Linked DNA regions of Homo sapiens. The protein of the gene in region 3 interacts with the protein of the main gene of each other region in a pairwise test. Each region holds a gene or a part of one and is shown on either strand. Other genes may lie near its edges. The genes, in order: HOXD10, BEND7, GEMIN2 and MTNR1A.

Evidence for each region.
Region 1: the proteins of GEMIN2 (region 3) and HOXD10 interact in binary tests that used the Homo sapiens proteins (3 or more experiments, as listed by UniProt).
Region 2: the proteins of GEMIN2 (region 3) and BEND7 interact in binary tests that used the Homo sapiens proteins (3 or more experiments, as listed by UniProt).
Region 4: the proteins of GEMIN2 (region 3) and MTNR1A interact in a two-hybrid assay, tested with the Homo sapiens proteins (one large-scale study listed by BioGRID and IntAct).

What each region holds. Positions count from the first base shown.
Region 1 is NC_000002.12:176,114,302-176,119,577, reverse strand, and holds the start of HOXD10 (homeobox protein Hox-D10), read right to left. Parts: upstream 2,801-5,276; 5' UTR 2,745-2,800; coding exon 2,000-2,744; intron 625-1,999; coding exon 347-624; 3' UTR 1-346. UniProt on the Homo sapiens protein: Sequence-specific transcription factor which is part of a developmental regulatory system that provides cells with specific positional identities on the anterior-posterior axis.
Region 2 is NC_000010.11:13,490,349-13,495,186, reverse strand, and holds part of BEND7 (BEN domain-containing protein 7), read left to right. Parts: intron 1-2,310; coding exon 2,311-2,576; intron 2,577-4,838.
Region 3 is NC_000014.9:39,133,606-39,138,019, reverse strand, and holds the end of GEMIN2 (gem-associated protein 2), read right to left. Parts: intron 4,360-4,414; coding exon 4,301-4,359; intron 1,581-4,300; coding exon 1,541-1,580; 3' UTR 1,047-1,540; downstream 1-1,046. UniProt on the Homo sapiens protein: The SMN complex catalyzes the assembly of small nuclear ribonucleoproteins (snRNPs), the building blocks of the spliceosome, and thereby plays an important role in the splicing of cellular pre-mRNAs.
Region 4 is NC_000004.12:186,532,675-186,536,719, forward strand, and holds the end of MTNR1A (melatonin receptor type 1A), read right to left. Parts: intron 1,884-4,045; coding exon 1,015-1,883; 3' UTR 981-1,014; downstream 1-980.

The DNA.
Region 1 (5,276 bases), on a different chromosome or scaffold from region 3:
TGGATGGATGGATGCTCTACAGTTCCAATAAGTTAAGACCCAAATGAAAATGCGCAATAATAGTTACCCTGCATTACGATGAAAAAATAATAAATTACACGTGCTAAGTTTTTATATATATATATATATATATATATATATACTCATAGGGATTACAGATCACTTGCAGCACGAACATAATGACCCCAAAGTCACATTCTAGCAGGAAAACAAAATACAACAAAACAACAAACAAAGAGCGGTGAAGGTTTTGTTTCCGCTTTCCCAGTCCTCCAGCACTGGGCCCTGGAACGCGGTGCCCCCTCTCCAATCCTGGCCTCTGACCGGCCTCAGACCGGCCTCAGACCTAAGAAAACGTGAGGTTGGCGGTCAGTTCTCGGATCCGGTTCTCTCGGCTCATCTTCTTGAGTTTCATTCGGCGGTTTTGAAACCAAATCTTGACCTGCCTGTCGGTGAGGTTAACGCTCTTACTGATCTCTAGGCGGCGCTCGCGGGTGAGGTACATATTGAACAAGAACTCTTTTTCTAATTCCAGCGTTTGGTGCTTAGTGTAAGGGCACCTCTTCTTTCTGCCACTCTTTGCAGTGAGCCAATTGCTGGTTGGTGTATCAGACTTGATTTCCTCTAACAAAATTAAAGGGAGAAGAAGAAAAAAATCAAGAGGTTTTTTGTTTGTTTGTTTTTGTTTTTGTTTTTGTTTTGGTTTTGGTTTTGGTTTTCGTTTTTGTTTTTTTCTTCAGACTGTTCAAATGTACCCTTGGCCGTGACCCTGCTGGCAGCCAGGCCGCTTTGGAAAATGCTAGTATTAAACATTACTCACATGAAGTGGGCCTTGGAAGGGAATCTTACATTGATGCCACATTACTTAAATGACATGATGGCAGGACAGTCTGCATTTGGGTTCTCGCTCTCTCTTTCAACTTTCTCACTTGTACAAAACATTAGTAGAATAGTAAACTTTCCAGATCTCCCCAGCAACATTCTAAGGGTTCAGCTCCTAACAGGGACGGAGGGGAATACGCCACGACCTGGACAAGCCTACCAACCCCACTGCTGCCTCAGGTCCCCAAATCTGCCACTTCTTCCCCACCTCTCCTAGGCAGTCAGGAATCCTGACAGTCAGGTTTATAGGTGCCCATTCTCTTTCAAAAGATAAATGGGGAAGCGAGACACCTTCCCCCACCTTGCCTGGGTATTGTTGCATTCCCCAGAATTTCCTTAATTTTCATGTCTTCTTGCCCCCACACTAAAGCATTCCCCCAGAAAGGGAGCCCCCTACTGTGGCCCACCTCTAAGCACTGGGGGAGAGGAGGAGGGTTCCTTCTCAAAAAGCCAGATCCCTGGCTCTTTGCCTTAGCCCAGCCCTAAGGCTGGCCTTGCAGGGAGGGCAATGCGGGTTCCACTCTCCCCCTCCGCCTTTGCCCTCTTTGCCGACGGATTGCAAAGACTGCAGCACTTTTCCTAAACAAAGCCAAGGTTACCTAGCCCAGCAAAGGCAGTAAGCCCTGTTTCCCAACTCAAGCACCAACCAGCCCAGCCATCTCTTTCCCCTCACCACCCCCAAGCTCGCAGGATGCGGGGTGCATACACTTGAACACGAACACGGTGCCCTGGATCACCTTAACATGATCATTGGGCTCAAGGCAAAACTGGAACTGCAAATCTGAGCAGGAGAAAAGAGGCTCTGTGGTCGTGTTTATGAGCCGCAGGTCTCCTTTGCGCTCTTTTGTTGTGTTCAGGTCTAGCTCAGGAAAAATAAAACCGGCAAGCTTTTCCTCTGCCCGGGCGCCATCAGCGTGGGGCCAGGACTGGCGGAGAGGGCCAGGGCAGCAGGGGAGAAGCGGGGACTATCTCAGGGCTGAGATCACCCCTCTAAAACCAGGCGGAGCAGCACCTGCCAAGTCGGGCTCCGGCTCGGCGCTGGGCACCCCGGCACTCCCTCTCTGCCGGGTTCCCGGGCTGCGCGCCCCGCTGGGGTGGCAACTCTGCTCATACCGACCTTTGCTTTCCTTCTCCTGCACTTCGGGACTGGACACGGAGACCTCAGCCAGGCAGCTCCTCTCTTCGGGAAGGCCGCCTTTGGCCTCGGGGCTCTCCACCTGGGAGACTTTGGTGGGCTCCTGGCCGCTCACGGGCTCGTTCATCTTCTTTTCCATCTGCAGCTGGGCAGCGGAGAGCTGCGGCTTGGCCGCGCCACGAGGGTTGAGCTGGAGCATGACAGTGGAGCTGCCTTCGGGGCTATTATTGTACTCTTGGGTTTTCCCGGTGGCGTAGGTCTGACTCAGTCTAAAATATCCAGGGACGGGAACCTCAGGGTTCTCAACGGGACAAGACTCAGGGACCAGCCTCTGGTACGAAGGGACCTCGGCCGAAATGAGTTTGTTGCGCTTATCAGAATACATGCAGCAATTGGATTCTTCCTTAATGTTGGTGGTGAAGGAGCAAGTGGGGACTTGCTGTGTAACAGGTTGCTCTATTCGACAAGATCTGTTCGGATCTGTCCAACTGTCTACTTGAGGTATATAAGGATGCACATTCATACCCATATTTTGGTGGTTCACTTCTCTTTTGGCCAGAGACGGGAGCAGTCCACAGGTTTGCATTCCATAGGTCCCCATGTCTGCGCTAGGTGGTGGCATGTACATGCTGGCGCTGCTGGAATAAAAACTGTCACTCCTGCAGGCACTGATCAAGGAATCTACTAAAAAAGTATTAGCAGCAGGAGAGCTGTTGGGAAAGGACATTTTGGGGAAGAATTTGAAGAAGAGAGATTGTGTCCTTTGTAGGCTGACATCTCTAGGAAAACATTCCCCGTGTAATTGTGGATGCCTCTGCCGACCACATGACAACCAAGCCAATGAGATTTGAAAATGGCCTTGAGCCGCAGCCTCCTCTCGGGTCACGTGCTCCAGAGCCTGGCCGGCCGGCCGGGTAAGCACGGACAACAGCGACATCTACTACGCGCCCGCGATAGTGCGCGCTGGAGACAACCGGCCCAGCGCTCTCCGCCGCCCTCCTGTCCGCCTCTCCAGGGCTCGCTCGGCCAGCCCGCCCCACTCGCGTCCCCCGCTTCGGCCCCTGGGCCCAACCGGCGGAAGGAAAGTCTCAGCTCTAGGGGCCTCCAAGTGGACACGCACGGACGGGGAGGGAAGCCAGAGTGCCCTGGCGCCAGCGCACAGAAGCATTCCCCCCACACACAACCAGGCAGAACGCGCTTAAGAGGGCCGGGTCCAGGACAAGCGGGTGGGGGCGCAGGCTGGTTAATTTAGTCCCGGGCAGCCCAGCGGGAAGGTGAGTCGGATTCCGCGGGCCCTGAGACATCCCACCCCAGGGGTCCAAAGGAAAGATCCCTTGGGGCTAAGAAGCGGCCAAGGTGTCTCTAGGAGGGCGGAGGCAAAAAGGGCCGCGAGGGCCGGGAGGCCAAGCAGCTGGCCGGGCCCGGATCCCCATGGATGGGTTGGTCCCTGCGTTGTCCTCCCGCTCGGTCCTCCTGCCTGGCTCCGGGTTCCTATGCGCCCCGGAGGGCTACACGAGGCTTCGGCTCTCAGAGGAACCACACCCTGACCTCTGCGGGGCCGGACCTCTGGGAGCTTTCAGCCCAGAGACAATTCTTTGCCAGCAGTTCACTATCCGCGAAAGCGTCCCTCGGGCTCCCTGTAGGAGAACTAAACAGAGGTTTCTCTCCCCACACCCTGATAATGGAGGGCAAACAGGAAGGAAGAAAGGAAAAAATAATTTAAGAAAAGGGGAAACTCTGACCCTCAGAATCCAGAAGTTTTAGAAAACTGACTGGGCCAAGAAGGACAGAGAGAAATGCAAAGGTGTCATTTTGGTTCTTCTGCAAAGAAAAATGTTTTCCTTTTATGGATTTTGTAAAAGCACTGGTTTCTGACAAGTGCAAGGTACAAAAGGTTGTGGAATTTATTAATACATATTAAGAAGAATCAGGGCGATCAATAAAATTCTCATCTACATTCTTGGGCTACTTGGTAATTTTCTTGCTTCTGAAGGTTTTTAAAGAGTTATGCCCGCTGTTGCCACACACGGGAAGATACTTTATTAACAAATCAATCGAGACTTTGTAAAGGATAAGATTAATAGTTAAATTTACCATAATGGCGTTCGCTTTATGAATTATTGAAAATTATACTATTGATTTTTTTCCCTTCGCTGCTAACCAAGAAGGTCATTTTTGTTTTAATACAAATTGTCAAATATTAAAAGCTATACTTTTGTCAGAAGTTGAGTTTTACAGTTTTGGACAATTTCTGAAATTATTTGACAAGGCTTTGCTTGGGTAAGGGAGGGGAAGGAGGTGGGAATCTTAGTTCTCTGTTTCCTTTGGTGAGGGAAACTTCTATGAAGAGGATATGGTCTGGGGTTGTGGTCCGGCTCATTAAAGAACCACCACTACCACCACTACCACCACTACCACCACTACCACCATGGAAACTCAGAGTTTTATGAGAAACTTCAACAACTTCCTCCCTCCCTCTCTTGCTGCAGGCGGGTGAGCCGCCCTGCGGAAGCCCGGGCCTCGGGGCAGCAGCGGGGAGCTTTAACCTTGATTTCCAAAGACTTGCCCTGAGTGAGGGGCCGGCCAGGGCTTGGAGCCGTCCTTCGGCCTGCCAGGTTCCCTTCCTGCCAGCCAAGAAACTAAAGCGGTCCCAGAAACTCTGACCATGAACCAGTTCTCAGTCCGGGAGGGCATCTGTGTTCTCTTTTCCCCGTACTCGCTGGGGCATGGGCTGGCCTTGGATTTCAGGCCCAGAGACTGAACTTGTGGGTAAATTGGGTTTCCACCTCAATAGAACATTTCTTTGGGGCCTGAGGTTCATTAAAGCGCCTCAGCATTCTGGGGGACCTAGTAGCCCGCCCGCTCCTTTACAAAAACCTTTCCCAAAAAACCCTTTGTCCCTCTTCCCAAAAAGGAATCTCCCCTGGCCTGGTTGAAACAAGCGTTGAACATTATTTTCGGCCTTGGGACCCTTTCGCCTGTTCCCTCTCGGTGCTCTCGCCCAAACAATAACCTCTTTTAAAAAACTCCGCGGTGGCAATGAGACAGACCTTTTAAACCTTTACGCAGCTGTTCAAATACAACATCATTGTCAGGTTAAAAGCCTGGCGCCTCTAACTGCTTTGGCTGCAGCATCCCAGCATAGCCTGGGGTTTAAACATTACCTTTCCACAGGGGTGGCTGTTTTCGAGCTTGGGGGTGGGGGTTGAGGATGGCCGGAAAAACAAAACAAGACAAAACATAACTTTTGACTCTAGGT
Region 2 (4,838 bases), on a different chromosome or scaffold from region 3:
GAGGAATTTGTTAGCACTTAAGAAAATATGCATATGAAATTGTAATGATTTGTTTTGTCACTTAAGCTCCTTACTACTGAAATGGCAAACTACAAATTGCAACCATTTAAATCCTTGACGGAAGCCTTTTTAGAATCTATTAAGTAAATGCCACTTTGTCGCTATGTTTTCTTTTCTGAACCTTTGCAGATTAGGGAGGTAAACGATTCCAAAGCTGTAGGATGGCACAAAGGATAAACTGAATAAATTACTCTCCTTTAATTTTCTTAAACTTAAAAATTTGTGTCATGTGGGTAGATTTACTTAAGGTTTAATGCCTGAAGACTTAGATTTAAATTACATTTAGAAAGTTTCACCTTTCTTTTAAGAAGACAGGGAATAAGACCTAGAGGTAAGATCTGGATGCCAGAGACTTGGGCTGTGTCTAGATTTGCAAAAGGAGAAGAAAAACTCAGATAGTCCCCGTGTTCCTTAAACCAAAACATTTTCATTTCTAATTGAGAATCATGAGGCTTAGCAAGGCCTGGGGCCTAGACCATCGTGATCATTATTCGAGGTCCCTTTGATTCTGAGGGTGCAGACCCAGCCTTGAGGGGGAATGCAGAGAGACCAAAGAGAAGTTCCCAACTCTGGCTGCACAGCAGAATCACTGGAAGAGCTTTCAGACAATGCTGTTTCCCAGGCAGCATGCCTGGAGGTGTCAGTTCACTTCGTCTGGGGTGGGGCTGAGGCATTTCAGTTTTTTTGTTTGTTTGTTTTTGTTTTTGTTTTGAGACATAGTCTCACTCTGTCGCCAGGCTGGAGTGCAGTGGCGTAATCTCGGCTCACTGCAACCTCCGCCTCCTGGGTTCAAGTGATTCTCCTGCCTCAGCCTCTCAAGTAGCTGGGACTACAGGTGCCCACCACCATGCCCAGCTAATTTTTGTATTTTTAGTAGAGACGGGGTTTCACCATGTTGGCCAGGATGGTCTCGATCTCTTGACCTCGTGATCCGCCCACCTCGGCCTCCCAAAGTGCTGGGATTACAGGGGTGAGCCACCATGCCTGGCCCGGCATCTCAGTTTTTTTAAACTCAAGTGATTCTAATGTACAACCAAGGTTGAGAACCATTGAGCTAGACTAATTACTGGTTTAAAAACTTCTGTGCTCTTATGTAGTGCAATTAGTTTGCTTCTAATATTTATGAATTGCTTTTGAATTTGGAGACAAAAATATCAGGATCAAAGTGTAAATATTCTTTATTTTCAGACTGATAAGAGGTAAGAGGAGGTGATTCATGTTTATATGCCTTTAAAGACCTTTAGTTTTCACTTGTCTTATAGGTTCATTTCTGTTGAAAAGCAGGGACATCCTATAGTCATATTTAGGAAGCTATATTAATACTTGAGGATTTAAACAATGATGCCATGTTTTCCAATTACACTTTCCAAGAGAGTATTTTTAAATGGCTAGCAAACATAACTTCTCAGAGTGCACCTGTGAGAACTGTAATTTACCATCCTGGATTTCTTTAAGTATAGAATCAGGTTGAATACTTGGTTCCTGTACTGTGCTTTTCATGTTTGGAACTGTTTCTAGATTTCACTGATTTGCTTGACTTGTACAGAATGATATTGCTCCTTCAGTTATGTGAAACCGAGGTCTAGAGAAGTAGCCTGGTCTGAGGCCATGTAGCAGGGTGCTCTGGAGGTGGTTGATGTGTGGAGAATATTTGTTTGGTGAGGAAGGATTCACTGGTCCTAATTAAGTAACTAATAGGCTTTTCCCACATGCTTACTGGTCCCTAATGTAGAATCATCCCAGACGGCTTCTTTTGATCAGTCTTGCGCAAATGATCATCACTGTCTCATCTTTATCAGTTTTGGCACCTGTAGATTATTAGGAACGGATCAGTCTAACCCCAAATGTAATCCTGAAACAGGATTACAAGGAAGCACAGCCGTCTCTATCTAAATTTAAATCCCGAAGTTCTCATTTATTTAAAAACATCCTATGATTTATAAAGCCATGCTCAGGTGTTTTCTCACAGCTCATGATCCTTTCCCTGCATTGAACCCAACAGCAGTATGCTGTCACGATTCACCTGCAGTAACGCTTTCTCCTGAGTATTTTTCTGCCTTTAGGACTTGAAAGTGCTTCAGAGCCTGCGTTTGGTAACCTTTAGGTCCAGTTGGAGATTTATTTAGTGTGCTTCATCCTGGAGTTTTCCTCGTTTCGGTTTCAGTTTGTAGATCACATGGATAGACCGGAGATAAGTTTTCCTAAGTCAGACACACGTGCCTGTACCATATTTTTGTTTATTATTCGCAGTTGGAACTCAAAACAGACAACAACCTCCAATTTCCCTTATATGCTCCCAGCGAACTGCTGTCTCACGAAAGAGAAATAAAAAGAAAAAAGTGCCCCCAAAGACTGTGGAACCTCTTACTGTGAAACAGAAGCCCAGTGGGTCAGAGATGGAGAAAAAGTCGGTGGTGGCCTCTGAGCTATCTGCTCTCCAGGCAGCCGAGCACACCTCCCCGGAGGAGAGCCGCGTTCTAGGATTCGGCATTGTTCTGGAATCACCTTCCTCAGATGTAAGTTGCCATTTTCTGGCTGCTGACTCTAATGCTATGTAACTTTTGGGAATTTTATAGTATTTATAGATTTCCCTTTTGACAACTAGAGAAACTTGCAGACTATATGTGGGAAAGAAGAAAAGAAGACTGGTAATAATTTTCTTGTCTGGAGTTTTCTTTTCTGAAAATGTGATGCCTTATTTATTTAGACAGGTTTCCAGTTTTTGTCTCCGAAAGGAGGAGGGTGATGGCGTAAATAATCTGCTCACTAATTTCTTTTGCATTTTTAATTTTGCAGTGACAATTTTCAATTTCCTTAGTGTAGAGACCTAAAAGAATATAATTAAATCCTTTGTAGATGGGCATAAATGAACAGGGCCATACAGATAAGATCGCACCTTTCTGGAAACACAAACTAATAATAAAAAAGGAGCAGTCATGCTAATTCTATTTTATAGATGCAAGCCACACCACTAATTAGGTGGCAGCGCCATGCCATTTACTCCGTGTAATGATAGGTTAAGGCTCTGCAAAGGTTTTTCTATTTTAATATCACAGCCAGAATGTTGCCGCAGTCCAGAATGTTGGATGACATCCGAGATAACCATCTGACTTGCTATTTTACATTCATAGGACCATAAACGAATGTGTTTAATAGTGCACTATATTTGCAATTGCATTTCTATTTACAATGTCTTTCTCTAAGTATGTTTGTGTTGTGAACCTTAACTTGTTGGGAGAGTTCTTAAAATAAACAAGAATGGGGGATCTGTTCTTATCAGATTGCATAGGACGAGAATCCTGCTGCGAACTCCCGCAGGCCTGTATAGGATTGGAGGTTGGCCATACCTTTTAAACTTTAAGTAGGAAACAAATTGCTTTTTAAAAAAGTTTTAAAAATTTTGAAAGAAATTGTGGGAAGACAGTTTGCTAGGGTATATCCACATTGGGTTTTTAACAAAGGGAGGGGACAAAAATCATCATCTTGTGACTTTTTTAGATTGGAAAGTTGTTGGAACTTTTACCTAATTCTCGGTGTTAAAGGTTCTTTTTTTTTTTTGAAATCTATAAACACTTGCTACAATTGTTAAGAAGTTCATCTAGTCTAAAAATTTAATTTTAAAACATCATTAATGATGATAACGTTCTATGCTGGACCAGTCAGCTCATGCAATGATATCATATTGCTATTGCAACTAGGGCCCTGAGTCAAACCCCAGGTAGATCACATATTCGGAAACAGAGGTAAATTATTCCTCAACACAAAGTACATTCAGTCCTTAAATTTTCTAAGCATTTTTTTTTTTTTTTTTTTTTAGACAGAGTCTCGCTGTGTCGCCCAGGCTAGAGTGTAGTGGCATGATCTCCACTCACTGCAACCTCCGCCTCTTGGGTTCAAGCAATTCTCCTACCTCAGCCTCCTGAGTAGCTGGGACTGCAGGTACTTGCCACCACCCCCGGCTAATGAAAACTCAGTTAGCTGTTGATTGTCTTGGAAGAATAACATGCTTCTAAAGAAAAGTGAGGCCAGGCATGGTGGCTTACCCCTGTAATCCCAACACTTTGGGAGGCCAAGGTGGGCAGATCAACTGAGGTCAAGAGTTCGAGACCAGCCTGGCCAACATGGGAAAACCCGTTCTCTACTAAAAATACAAAAATTAGCTGGATGTGGTGGCACATGCCTATAGTCCTAACTACTCGGGAGGCTGAGGCATAAGAATCACTTGAACCCAGGAGGCAGAGGTTGCAGTGAGCCGAGATTACACCACTGCACTCCAACCTGGGTGACAGAGGGAGATTCCGTCTCAAAAAAAAACAAAAACAAAAAAACAAAATCATAGGATTGGGCAAGTGGCCCAGTGTTGCTAGAACAGCTGTCTGGCTGGCATTGGTAAAAGCAGGGTGGGGTGAGAGAGTGAAAGTCCAGGTGAGGCCTTCAGCCTTTATCTGTGGGCAGGAGGGAGCCATTGCAAGTTTCCAGTAAAGGAAGAATTGTGCCTGAATCTTAGAACCGTAGCTAGAACAGCATGCGGCTGACAGAAAGATAGAGATAGCCGGAGGAAGATGCATGCAGCCTGCCAGGCAGGAGATCAGGAGGGCTAGACAGGAGCAGTGAGCCTGGAGAGGAGAGCATGGAGAGACATTCAGGAGGGACACGGGGACTGAGTGGGAAGTGAGCCCCGGATTCCCATCTGGGAAACTTGCTGGGTTACAGCTGCAGCTGAGACTTCAACTGAGACGCGGAGAGCAAGAGCAGTGCAGGCTTTTCAGCTCTGGATG
Region 3 (4,414 bases):
AGATTGCGTCACTGCACTCCAGCCTGGGCAACCAAGCGAGACTCGTCTCAAAAACAAACAAAAATAATAATAAAGTGAGCTTTATGAAGACATTACAGAAAAGATTCAAATATAAAATGACCTCTGCTCTAATTATAACTGGTGGCAAAACTGTTGGTTGTCTGATCCATGGTAATTCCCAATCCCCATTTTCCTTTCCCACCTTCCATTAGTGAGACTGGAAAGGCGTACAGCTTCATTTTCCCACTTTCCTGGGAACAAGGGGTGATCATGTTGTACATTTATGGCTAGCAGATGAACACAAGTCTGATCTAAATTTCTAGAAAAGATTTTACATTTATGAGAAAAGGATCAGATGTGGAAGGCCCTGCTTCCCCTTCTTTTTGTCTTGAATACAGACACATTGGCTTGAACTGCAATGGCCATCTTGTTTCCATGACAGAAAGGCTAAAGGAATCTGAGCCCCTGATATCACTGAGTCACTAAACCAATGCCAGTGGCCAGCTCCTTTAGACTTCTTGTTATCTGAGAAAAACCCCTATTTGAAGAACCATTGCCACTTGGATCTTTTGTGTTACTTAAAGCAGAAAACATTCCTACCTGATACAGAAATAGGTAAGTTATAAGTGACATAAACAAATTAAAACAGTTGACCTGTTATTTTTGAAAGTGATTTGTTAGATAAAGTTCTATTTGTGCAATAAAGCATTTAAAAATAAAAATATTGAGGCCAGGCACAGTGGCTCATGCCTGTAATCCCAGCACTTTGGGAGGCTGAGGCGGGCGGATCACCTGAGATCAGGAGTTCAAGAGCAGCCTGGCCAGCATGGTGAAACCCTGTTTCTACTAAAAATACAAAAATTAGCCAGGCTTGGTGGCGGACACCTGTAGATCCAGCTACTCGGGAGCCTGGGGCAGGAGAATCACTTGAACCTGGGAGGCAGAGGTTGCAGTGAGCTGAGATCCTGCCACTGCACTCCAGCCTGGATGACAGAGCGAGACTCCATCTCAAAGAAAAAAAAAAAAAAAAAAAAAAAGTGCTGAGCTTAAAGGGAAAAATGTTTAATTTTATTGCTGACTATGAACACATTGCCATTTAATCCAGATTATTTTAATTCTGATGCTAAGGCCATCCATTGTCTTTTGTTAGGAGTCAAACAAAATTTTAGTAACCAAAACATATTTTCAATAAAATTTTATATGTATATAAGTAAATAACAAAACAACAAAAAACAAAAAAAGAACAAAACAGCACCAAGAACCTATGTAAAATTTCATCATACAATTTCTATGCAAGCTGCTTGATTACAGAAAACTGTTCAAACTGTTCATCAAAAACTGAGTGGGATTTTCCATTGATATTTCAGATATTCAAATCAACCCATATTCTGAGTATCAATCTGAATTGCACAGGTTAAGATGTGAACCCTTCACATAGTGTTGAAGATGTGTTGAAATCTGTACTTGAATTGGCATTGTTTTCCTCAGAGTTAGGCTGCCTTCATGAGAAATATCTTCTATCCCTGAGAGATCAGCTACATCAAGATGGCTCATCAGCTAAATCACGTTGGTCAAAATACCTAGTAAAAAAAAAACAAAAAATTTATGTATAAAGATATTAACTGTAGCACTATTTTTAATAGCCAAAGACCATAAGCAACCCAAACGTCCATCAATAAGAAACTGGTTAAATAAGCTATAGTATGTCTACATAGTGGAAAATTATGAAGCCATAAAAAGAGAAATGAGGGAAATATTTATACTGCTAAAGTATGAGGAACGTATTTATACTGCTAAAGTATGATTTCCAGGATTTATTAAGTGAAAAAAAACGAAGTACAGAACAGATTGTTCTGTATGCTACCTTATGTGAGTATGTGTAGGACTGCCAATATACGTGTTTGTTTATATTTTTCTTTTCCTTTTTGAGACAAGGTCTCACTCTGTCACCCAGGCTGGAGTGCAGTGGCATGATCATGGCTCATTTCCCAGACTGGTCTTGAACTCCTGGGCTCAAACAATTCTCCAGCCTCAGTCTCTCGAAGTGCTGGAATTACAGGCTTGAGCCACCACATGCGGCCTACTTATACTTTTAAAAAGAAACAATGAATGAAAAGATGAAACAAAAATTAGTAATACAATGGTTAACTAGAGGAGAAAGGAAAAAAGAGGATAATGAGGATAAAGATGGATGCTAAAATACTCCAAATGTACCTTGAATTATAATTTTAACTTTGGCAAGGTAACTATTTTATGTAATTATAAGATTAAATAAAAAGGAAAATCACTAATCAGATTTTGTCATGGCTCACTGCATTCTTGAACCCCTGGACTCAAGCAATCCTCCCACCTTGACCTCCCAAAGCACTGGGCTTACAGGTGTGAGTCACTGTGCCCAGCTTTCCTTTTTTTTTTCTTTTTTCTTTTTTTTTTGAGATGGAGTTTCGTTCTTGTTGCCCAGGCTGGAGTGCAATGGCACGATCTCAGCTCACTGCAACCTCCACCTCCCAGGTTCAAGTGATTCTCCTGCCTCACCATCCCGAGTAGCTGGGATTACAGGCGTGAACCACCGTGCCCGGCTAATTTTCCTATTTTTAGTAGAGGCGAGGTTTCACCATGTTGGCCAGGCTAGTCTTGAACTCCTGACTTAAGGTGATCCACCCGCCTTGGCCTCCCAAAGTGGTGGGATTACAGGTATGAGCCACCATGCCCGGTCCTTTTTTTCCTAAACTTTCAAATCTTTGTGTCTTCTATTGTAAAGCTGTTAGCTTCAGAACCTTTTGTAGTCTAGAACTTTTTCCATTTTTATCTAACTTTTTGAGGGCAAAAAATACACTTGAATGTTTTTGCTTTCATAATTGCATAATACTGTAAAATCTCAACTGAGGCAGTCAGAAACTATACTTGTCTGAGGTTTCATTAATTACTGGTTTGCTGAGCTACCAATTACTTAACCTTTCTGAATCTGTGTCATTATCTGTAAAAGGAAAAAAATCAAGTCCAACAGAGCTGAAAGGAAAAAATTTATTAAAACAAAAACAAAAACAAAAACACAACTCTGATCTATTGTAAAGAGTAGAGATACTATACATAAAGTAAGTAGGGCAATGCTATATCATCTCATTTAACTGCTACTACCAACAGATGAGGTAGGTATTAGCTTAATTTTTGATCAGCATAGTTAAAAGTTTAGCTCCGGAGTCAAAGTTGCCTGGGTTTGGATCATTACTCTAACACTTACTAGCTTTGTGATGGTAGTAATATTATTTAACCTCTCTCTGCCATGGTTTCCTCATCTGTAAACTGTTAACAGTACCCACCTTAGAAGGATTAAATGGGTTCCTCACTAAGAAAAATGCTTGGCACAAATTGCCCAGTAAATGTTAATTATCATCAGCAGCATAATTATTGTAGATCAAGAAACTAGATATTGAATATGTGAAAATATGGAAACAAGATTACTTGCCTTCCCAATATTTAAGTATATTATAAAGCTTTAAAAAGGTACTGGCAATGAAATAAAAACACTGATCTATGGAACAAAAATATGTCCAGGAGGAGACCTAAAATAAATATGTGTGTTTTACTGCCTGGCCAATAATGGTGAAACTCCGTCTCCACAAAATTACAAAAATTAGCCGGGCATGATGGCAGGTGCCTGTAAGCCCAGCTACTTGGGAGGCTGAGGGGGGAGAATTGCTTGAACCCAGGAGGTGAAGGTTGTAGTGAGCCGAGATGGTGCCATTGCACTCCAGCCTGGGCAACAGAGCGAGACTCTGTCTCAAAACAAAACAACAAAAAAAGTTTTCAAATAAATTCCAAGAAGAATTTCTATGTAAGAAATGAAATAAAACAGATACTAAATAAAAATATGCCACAACTGAAAATGAACGCAGGACACAGGCAATTAAACAAAAATGCAGGCTGAATGCAGTGGCTTTACACCTGTAATCCCTGCACTTTCGGAGGCTTAGGTGGGAGGATCGCTTGAGCCCAGGAGTTTTGAGACCAGCCTGGGCAACATAGTGAGACCCTGTCTCTACGAACAATTTTTTTTAATTAGCCAGGTGTGGTGGTGCTTGGTTGTGGTCCTAGCTACTCAGGAGGCTGAGGTGGGAGGATTGCTGGAGCCCAGGAAGTTAAAGCTCTAGTGAGCTGTGATTGCGCCACTGCACCCTAACTATAGCAACAGAGTGAGACTCAAAAAAAAACCAACCAAACAAAAACCAAATGTAATAAATACGATCTAACCTCACTGACCTCACTGATAAATAATAAAGAAGCCAAGGATTAACTATACCTGCTAACCAAGCAGATTAATAAATTCAAAGCAGGAACCCTCTCATCATCTTTGCTATCCTAAAAAAAAAAAAAGAAAAATTTAAATATTGTCTGTTCCTATTACTTTTGAAAT
Region 4 (4,045 bases), on a different chromosome or scaffold from region 3:
TAAACATATGTGTGCATGTGTCTTTATAGCAGCATGATTTATAATCCTTTGGGTATATACCCAGTAAGGGGATGGCTGGGTCAAATGGTTTTTTTTTTTTTTTTTTTTTTTGAGGCAGAGTCTCATTCTGTAGCCTAAGTTGGAATGTACTGGCGCGATCTCGGCTCACCACAACCTCTGCCTCTGGGGCTCAAGGGATTCTCCTAACTCAGTCTCCTGAGTAGCTGGGATTACAGGCGTGTGCCACCATGCCCAGATAATTTTTTGTATTTTTTTAGAGATGGGATTTCATCATGTTGCCCAGGGTGGTCTCAAACTCCTGAACTCAGTTGATCTGCCCACCTCAGCCTCCCAAAGTGCTGAGATTACAGGTGTGAGCGACTGTGCCCGGCCTATGATTTAGTTCTTTATCTGGTTGCATGCACAACTTGTAATATAGAGCAGCAAACATTTATGACCATGAGTATAGCTACCCAATGCTAACTCTGCCAGCTGAAAGGTTTGTGGTGTTGGTTGTGGTTGTGATTGTTGATGAGCCATTAACTGATTTATGTTCAGCCTTTCCCTCTGTAATAAGAGGCACTCACCCCACTTTCATTGTTTGTTCCATTTACAGAAAAAAAATTGTTCCATTTGCTCATTTATAAATAAAATTCTCTTTCATTTTTCTGCTAGAAGTCTTCAAAAAGTGAAGAAGAATGCAATTACCCCTTTTGTGGCACTCATTTACAATAAAAGTTTGCACACTCCTTCCCCTGAATGCATTCAGCAGCTTACTCTCACCCCAGCCCTGAACCGCATTCCTCAGTTAACATGTAACTCTCCATACATTCTGTACTTCTCTTGACTAGTAGAATTGGAGGGGTTTATAATGCTGACAGCACGTTAGCTCAGAAACTATGGCAGCAGCCAGGTAAAAGTTGGAAGTTTCCTCCACCACTCTGCTTTCCCAGACATCTGTCAAGAGCGAGGCCTTGCGCAGCGTGTCCATCTCACCCGGAACGTGGTGCTTTTTTAAACGGAGTCCACCTTTACTACATTATTGTTGGTCATCAGTGGAGACGGTTTCCATTTAACCCTATCGGCCACGTCGTTAGAGCTGTCCACAAAGAACACCCTGGCTGTACAGAGCGAGACTATAATTCTCCTGTATTCCTTCCTGAAATTTTGGTTCAGTAGCCCGTATATAATGGCATTGAGGCAGCTGTTGAAATACGCCATGTAGTAACTGGCCACAAACAGCCACTCTGGGATCCTAGGCACCATGCTGGCGGGGTCAGAGGCCACGGCCAGGCCAATGAAGTTCAGAGGAGCCCAGCAAATGGCAAAAAGGACAAAAACCACAAACATGGTGACAAAATTCCTGAAGTCCTGTGGTTTCAGTTTGGGTTTGCGGTCAGGTTTCACCCTCTGTCTGACCTGGAGAACCAGGATCCATATTCTCAGGTAACAGAAGATGACTATGATCATGGGGACGAGGAAGTGGAAAACCACCACGGCGATGGTGTAGGCGGAGCTGACGGACTGGGCGAAGGTGCACGAGTAGATCCTCGGGTCGTACTGGAGAGTCCCTGCACGGAGGTTGGGCAGGACGGCCGCCAGCGTCAGGAGCCATATGAGGAGCACGTAGCAGAGGGAGTTCTTGCTGCTGTACAGTTTGTCGTACTTGAGACTGTGGCAGATGTAGCAGTAGCGGTTGATGGCGATGCCGGTGATGTTGAATATGGAGCCGATGACGCTCAGGCCCATCAGGAACCCACTGACTTGGCAGTGCAGATAGCCCAGGTTCCACCCGTTGTTAAATATCGACATCAGCACCAACGGGTACGGATAAATGGCCACCACCAGGTCTGCCACCGCTAAGCTCACCACAAAGATGTTTCCTGAAAGAGAATCGTTTAGAAAATACAGTGAATACCAGTTCACAGTGGGTTTTCTGTTACAATTGTTAAAGAAGGAGCTGCTTCTGCAGCTCCGATGACCTGACGTCACAGCGGCGGCCGCACTGCAAATGAAGTGGAGGCCGTTTCCCAGGAGGGCCAGTCCACTGCCGCTCCTGACACATCGAATCCGCTGTTCACACATTCCCACCTCCCCAGAACAGGGCCTGTTCCATGTTCAAAACTGCTGTCTTTCAAACCGTTCGGCTTCTCATCTCTTAAAAAGTCCTGAGATCAGAATGCTTGCACACCATCTGTTGTTCTGGAGCCTTCTACATCACCTGAGAAATCTCATATGATGTCAAGCCAGCCACAACTTCCTTAAGTTCAAGTCTTCATTCCCTCTGTAGTGCTTCAGCAGCTCTCAGGGGGCCTCTAGCTTCTGTTCTTGCTGATCCCATAGAGAGGGAGTTAAGGGCAAGAGGGATCTGTCGTCAGCCGTCTGGATGAGAACATGGCTTCACTCCTTACTAACTGTCCAACCGGGGCAAGTTACTTGATCTCCCCAAGCACCTGCCTCCTCCCCTGGATGATGGGATAATGAGCAGCTTCCTCTTAGGGCTGTGGTGAGCACGAGATGAGACTATCTGTGGTGAGCGCCATGTACCGTGTCTTACACCATAGAAATGTTCTTATTCTACGACTCCCTCACCTTGAACCAAAGGAAAATGCAGAAATTCTCTTAGATCTTATAAAGAACTTACGTTACAAAACTTAAACCCTAAATAGTCTGTTAATTTTCTCAATTAATATAACAACACATATTTAATTACAGAAAAAAAAAACTCTAGTCACTTTTTTATTTTTATTTTTTTGAGACAGAGTCTTGTTCTGTCACCCAGTCTGGAGTGCAATGGTCCGACCTTGGCTCACTGCAACCTCCGCCTGCAGGGCTCAAGCAATCCTCCTACCTCAGCCTCCCAAGCAGCAGGGACCACAGGTGCACACCACCACACCCGGCTCGTTTTTGTATTTTTGTAGAGACGGGGTTTTGCCATTTTGTCTAGGCTGCTCTCAAACTCCTGGGCTCCAGCCATCCACTTGCCTCGGCCTCCCAAAGTGCTGGGATGGCAGGTGTGAGCCATTGCTCCCAGCTACATTAGTCAAATATTATGAGATGTTCTGCAAATATGTTTTTTTTCTTTTGCGGCTCTTCTGCCTCTGTTTCTTACTATTCCTTCTGCCTCGAATGGCTCCTCACATCAACTTTCTAAATCCTGCCCATTCTCCCAAGTCTATCTCAAATAGAAATGCCAGAAGCCTTTGCTCATTTGCCCACCTAGTGGTAAGAGCTTCCTCCTTTGAAGGGTCTTAAAGCACTTTATACTGCTTTTTACTCAGATTAAATTATAATAAATTCAATTCAGTTTACATATTAAATGCATATATTTGGTGCAGGGGGAAACAGGAATTGAGAGACAGGAAAAGTCAAAAAGATTACACTAGAGTGGTTGGGCGCAGTGGCTCACACCTGTAATCCCAGCACTTTGGGAGGCCAAGGTGGGTGGATCAACTGAAGTCAGGAGTTCAGGACCAGCCTGGCCAACATGGTGACACCCCGTCTCTACTAAAAATACAAAAATTCGCTGGGCGTGGTGGCGGGCACCTGTAATCCCAACTACTTGGAAGGCTGAGCCAGGAGAATTGCTTGAACCTGGGAGGCAGAGGTTGCAGTGAGCAGAGATCGCGCCATTGCACTCCAGCCTGGGTGACAAGAGCAAAACTCCGTATCAAAAAAAAAAAAGAAAAAAAAGAAAAAGAAAATTACACTAGAGTAAGCAGCAGCACCAGAGCACGCACAGACCAGAAGCTGTGAGGAAAGGGGTGCGCTGGACAGGGACAGAGGGAGCCCCAGGTGGACGGACAGAAGATTTCGCCTTCTATTCTATTGACCTGTAGGCCAGGCTTCCCTGCGTCTCCAGATGGTGGCCCTCGTGAGTACATTTCCTCATATTTGCGTCCTAGACCACACCCAATAAATACAGTGACTTTTGCTCATACACTCAATGAGTTCATTAAACTGTCACTTCCCAATATTTGAAATGAGACAGCCCATAGCAGTCAAGATGAGAGAAAGGCAAAATTTGTGCCATTTATTTAGGAAT